Linked DNA regions of Homo sapiens: region 2 is linked to region 1. Evidence: fine-mapped expression QTL. A gene starts in region 1. The other region holds a variant in brackets. All regions are shown on one strand. Distances are from middle to middle.

Region 1 (2,907 bases):
CCCCATCACTCTGCAGGGGTTATGGTGGGGGAACAAGAGAGGCTTGGAGCCCCTCATTCAGATGCACCAAAGGCACCCACTAAGAAGCTAAGTGTCTTACACATCAGTGGAAACCAGAGGGTAAACAGGATTCCATCCATGCCCAGGGCTTTCCGGGAACACACCTGTCCAAGCAGCAGCAGTTCCCAACAGAGCTCTGGTCCCGGAAAGCCGGACAGCCAGGGCTGGGCCCTCTGGGATTTGTTTAGTGATCTGACCGTGTGGGAGGCCTAGAGTAGGAGTGGGGGTGGGGGGAGCGTGCCGCCCAGCCTTATTGCATCACTCACCGCCCAGGCCCTGCCCTCACTCCCTCCTGACCAGGCCCTGTGCAGGTTCTCAGCCACCCTGCCCCGGGGGGTCCTTCAGACTGTACTCACTGACCAAGTGAGGGACTGACCCGAGGTTAGAGTGCTGTGTTGTATGTGACCTGAGAATATGTGTGCACAGACTGAGCCCCGGTGTCCTTGTGCAGTTGAGCGTGTACATGTCCTGCCCGTGTGTAGGCAACCTGTCCCTACATGCTAGGAGTGTGACTCCACGTCCTGCTAGAGGGGGAGGAGAGAAGGAGTTGTGCCCAGGGTCCCCTGATCACTTCTATGGGCTCATGTTTGTGCATCTTGTTAGGGGTGCTTGGGGGTAGGGAAGCCTGTGCCCTGGGTGCCCTTGATCACCTGTGTGTGTGCTCCATCAGGTGTGCGCGCCTGTGCATTGGGGGTGTACTGTGTCACAGCTTCCTAAAACAACCATGTGCGCATGCAGACGTTTGCGTGTGTGACCTACGGTGTGAGCGAGCGGATGCTTCCACCACGTGTCTCTGCACACGCATGTGTGCACTTGCACACCTGCGTGTGTCCCGAGAGAGCGAGCGGAGCCCAGCGTGGGCTGGCACGCGCGGGAACGTGTGGGTGCGCGTCCTGCGGGTCCCTGCCGGGTTGACTCCCAGCTTGTGCCGCGGGCGTGCATGAGCGGAAGGCGCCCGGCGGCCCTGCCTGGCCGCGAGTGTGCGCGCGCGGGGTCCCGGGCCGGCGTGCACGCCGGTGTGAGTGCGAGTGCGAGTGAGTGTGGCGCCGCGCGGCTCCCTCCGCTCCGCGCCGCCCGCGCAGCCCGCACACTCACCCTGCTTGGTTGCTGCCGGGTGACGCGGGCTGGGCCCGCCCCCTGCCTGCCGGCCTCTGGCACTCGCTCGCGCCGTCCGCAGCGGAGCGGGCAGCGGCCAAGTCAGGGCCGTCCGGGGGCGCGGCCGGCGATGCCCGCAGCCCCCGCCGCGCCCCGCCGGGCCTGCTGAGCCGCCCCCGGGCCGGGGTCGCGCCGGGCCGGGCCGCGCCCGGGGCGGGGCGGCGCTGCCTGCATGACCCTCCGGCGGCGCGGGGAGAAGGCGACCATCAGCATCCAGGAGCATATGGCCATCGACGTGTGCCCCGGCCCCATCCGTCCCATCAAGCAGATCTCCGACTACTTCCCCCGCTTCCCGCGGGGCCTGCCCCCGGACGCCGGGCCCCGAGCCGCTGCACCCCCGGACGCCCCCGCGCGCCCGGCTGTGGCCGGTGCCGGCCGCCGCAGCCCCTCCGACGGCGCCCGCGAGGACGACGAGGATGTGGACCAGCTCTTCGGAGCCTACGGCTCCAGCCCGGGCCCCAGCCCGGGTCCCAGCCCCGCGCGGCCGCCAGCCAAGCCGCCGGAGGACGAGCCGGACGCCGACGGCTACGAGTCGGACGACTGCAGTAAGTTTCCCACGCGCCGACTTCGCGCCCCCTCCCCTGGCTCGGGCTCGGCCCCCCCACGGCCTCGCGGCTTCCCTCCGCCGGTCCCCCTCGCGCGCTCGCGCTCTGCCTCGGTTCACAACCCCGCCGCGGGCTTGCGGGCCCCTGGCGCACTCGGTGCGCTCTCCGCGCCCTGCCCACCGGCCTCGAGCCCTCCCCCGACCCAGGCCGGACAGGAGGGAAGTTCGGGGGCACCCCCTGGGGGTGTCCCATTTCCGGGGCCGGGTTCCTCGGAGCCGGCGCCGCGCCCCCTCCCTGCCAGCCCGCCCTCCCGGAGCTCCGGCGCGGGCGGCTGCTTTTGTTCCCGGGAAGGGCGGAGCTGCGTCCCGGGGAGACACCAGTTGCTGCCGGCCGCGCGGTCGCTCCCCGCTCGCCAGCCGCTCCGGGAGGGCCTCGCGGCCGAGGGTCGGGGCTGGGGCGAGCTGGGGAGGGGCCCGAGGCTGGGAGCGGCCCGGCCTCCCGCGTGGTCCCGGCGGCCCGCAGAGCGCAGCTGCTTTGCTGGCGCGCGAGCAGAGGACCAGGAGGACCGCGGGGCCGCTTGTCCTTTGGAAAAACCTTGGCGTTTCCTCCTCCGGTGTCCATGGACCCCGCCGCAGCCCTCGCCAGGGCCGCGCACCTTCGCCCACCTGTTACGCCCGCGGCCCCCGGGCAGAGAGGGCCCCCCAGCCCGCTCCCCCTCCTCCCGGACTGAGCCCTGAGCCCCCGGGAGCAGGCAAGCGCCGGAGTCCCGGGACCGAGGCCCGGCCGGTGGGCGCTCCTGGCGCCTTTTCCCGTCCCCGAGGGTGCCTGTCCGGCCCGAGCCGGGACTGGCTGGGAAACCGAGGCCGGAAGAGGTCGCAGTCCAGTGAGGAGTCGGTTTGCGCGGGGTGGGGATGGCATGTGAGAACCCCCTCCTAGCTCAGCTGTGGCTCCAGACTTGTCACTGAGACCTGGAAAACCAGCGTCTCGTCAAACCCCAGCCCTTCCCGGGATGTGGCCCTTCTCCAGGGCTGGTGCTGCCCCTCCCCTGCGCAGCAGGGATGTCTGCGCCTGGCCTGGGCACTCACCAGGGCCTGTGGGCTGCGGGCCTGGAGTTTCCCAAGCATCAAATGTGCCACCAGAAGCTGAA
Region 2 (2,907 bases), 22 kb before region 1:
AGCAGCTGACAAATGAAGCTTCTCCCTCCCTGCTCCCTCCTTCCCGACTGCCATCGCCTCCACCTTTGCCCAGGCTCTTTCATGGGGAAAAGGGAACCAAAAGCTGGGCCCTGTCATCCCTGCCCCCACAGCAGGGGCCTGCCCAGATCAGTCGCTGCACCTTCTTCCCAGGCTCTGCTTCCAGACGTGGCATGGCAAGGCTGGGTTCCCTAGAGCCCGGCTCCTGAAGGCAGAAGTCAAGGCTTATTCACCTTTGGGTCCCTAGTTAGCTGTCAAGAAATATTGCTGGATCAATGGATGCATGGATGCATGGGTAGATGGAGGGGTAGGGGATGGGTCAGTGGGTGGTGGAGGGGTGAGGATGGTTGGGGGATGGGTGGATGGCAGGTGAGTGAGGAGATGGATGGAGGTCTGGATGAGTGAGGGATGGGTGAGGAGATGGATGGGTGAGTGGGTGGAGGAGTGGGGGATGGGTAGGGCGATAGTTGAGTGGGGAATGGGTGGGGGAAGGATGGGTGGGGGAGGGGTTAACGGATGGCTGGGTGGGGGAAGGGTGAGTGGGGGCATAGGGGGTAGTTGGATGGATGATGATTGGGTGGGGGATGGTGGGGGTGGGTGGGTGGAGGACAGATGGGAGGATGGATGATGGACAGACTGATGGAGCATTGGACAGATGGATGGAGAGACAGGTGCATAGATATTCTGCATGGACCAATGTGCTGAAGGACATCTGAGAGGATGGACAGATGAACAGAGGATGGACCAGTGTCCTGATGGGAAGAAGGATGTGTGGATGGATGGAAACACTCCAGGCCCAGGGCCTGTGTGCTCTGCATCCCTAGGGAGGGGCCAGCAGATCAGGAGCCCCAACCTACACTTCCCAGAAGCTGTGGGTCCTCGGCCAGGAGCACTCAGTTCACAGCAGCCACAGGAATCCTGGGCAGAGCAGCTCTTGAGCCCTGGTCTCTGTGCCTCAGCCTGGTCTGCGTACCTCAGAGGGCCCTTGTGTGGAGCCCTGGTCTGTGTGCCTCAGAGGCCCTCGTGGGGAGCCCTGGTCTGTGTGCCCCAGCCCGCCTCAGTGACCCCCAACAAATTCCCCCCCTATCAAAATCACTATAGCTGTAGTCCCAGCTACTTGGGAGGCTGAGGCAGGAGGATTGCTTGAGCACAGAAGTTGGAGGCTGTAGTGAGCCATGATCTCGCCACTGCACTCAGCCTGGGTAACAAAACAAGACCCTATTCAAAAACAGTAAATAAATGAAAGAAAACCCACTGCCACATTCCTTATGCTAATAAGGCTAGCCAGCCCTTAATGTGTGTGCAGATGAGATCTTACTCAAACTCATTCACACAGAAGTACAGGCATGTGTCACCTAACAACCAGGATACGACAGGGATACTTCCAAGAGATGTGTTGTCAGGCAATTTCATCATTGTGCAGACATCATAGAGAGCACGGACGTAAATCTAAGTGGCAGAACCTACAGCACACCTAGGCTATGTGGGAGAGCCTGGGCTCCTGGGCTACAAACCTGTGCAGCATGTAGCAACTGCGACACCGTGGAATTATGTGTGTAGCTAATCATAGAAAGGGTACAGTAAAAATACGGTATAAAAGATGTTTTAAAATGACACAGGTGTATAGAGCACTTCCCGTGAATGGAGCTTGCGGGACTGGAGTCGCTGTGGGAGAGTCAGTGTGTGGTGAGTGTGAGGGCCCAGGGCATTACTGTCCACTCGTATGTGACTGGCAGTGTAATAGGTGTGTTCACACCAGCATCACCACAAACGAGTGATAA[C/T]GTGTTGCACTGTGACATTACACGCCGCAACCTCACTAGGCAACGGGAATTTTCAGCTGCTTTGTAGTCTTATGGGACCACCGCTGGATATACAGCCTGTCATTGACAAACTTCGTTATACAATGCATGACTGTATTCTAAAATAAATCACTCAGGCCATAGCACCACTCTCCTCCACTCTGCTGCCTCCAGAGTGTGTAAGTACAGACAGGTCACTTGGCCAGTGCGGGCCTCAGATTCCCTGTGAAACACGAGGCCGAGTCAGACGCACTCCAGGGTCTCTTGGCCCTGAAAGTCTGTGACTTTGTGGCATCTCTGCCCTAGGCTGTGGGGTGAGACCGGGCCAGGTCGCCAGGCTCCTCACACTGCGGGAGGGCCCTTCGTCCAAGCCCAGCGGCTCCTGCAGAACCTGAGAGCTGTGCCAGGCGCACCTGGGAGAGCAAATCAGCCAGACTCTAAAGTGGGGTCCAGAGCCATCTCCCTCTGAAAGAGCTGATGACGTGGTTTGGATCTGTGTCCCCCCCGCGTGTCATGTCGAATTGTAACCCTCAGCGTTGGAGGTGGCGCCTGGTGGGAAGCGACTAGATCACGGGGGCGGTTTTCCCATGACTGGTTGAGCACCGTCCGCCTTGGTGAGTCCTCACGAGCTCGGCCATTTACAAGTGGGTAGCACCTCCCGCCTCACTCTCTTGCTGCTGCGCTGACCGTGTGGCATGCCTGCTCCCCCTTAGCCTTCTGCCATGATTGTAAGTTTCTTGAGGCCTCCTCAGAAGCTGAGCACATGCCAGCATCAAGCTTCCTGTACAGCCTGAGGAACCGTGAGCCCATTACTTTGCTTTTCTTTATCAATTACCCAGCCTTGGGTACTTTATAGCAGTGCAGGAAAGGACTAATACAGCCAGGGATGGTGACCCGCAAGGCCTGGAACCAGACCCCAAATGTGGCCTTCCCCAGCTCTTAGCGCCTTCCAAGTCTAAGCTGACAGCTCGGCATTGTTGCAGGTGGAAACACACCTGGATTTTCTGAACAGCTGGGGAGGGAACAGCTCCTCTTGGAGAGGAATTGTCTTCGTTTAGGAAAAATGCTTTTAAAGGGCACATTTCAACCC

Evidence for each region.
Region 2: its variant is fine-mapped to the expression of DOC2B in whole blood (TOPMed, PIP above 0.99).

What each region holds. Positions count from the first base shown.
Region 1 is chr17:179,960-182,866 of GRCh38, reverse strand. It overlaps DOC2B (double C2 domain beta), which reads left to right and starts at 1,217. Exons shown (of 9, transcript NM_003585.5): 1 at 1,217-1,760. The coding sequence starts at 1,388. RefSeq lists enhancers at 332-833, 2,295-2,861.
Region 2 is chr17:202,092-204,998 of GRCh38, reverse strand. No RefSeq gene overlaps it. Among named protein-coding and RNA genes, the nearest start is that of LINC02091, 16 kb to the right of the region's middle. The variant C/T (reference allele first, on the strand shown) is at 1,800.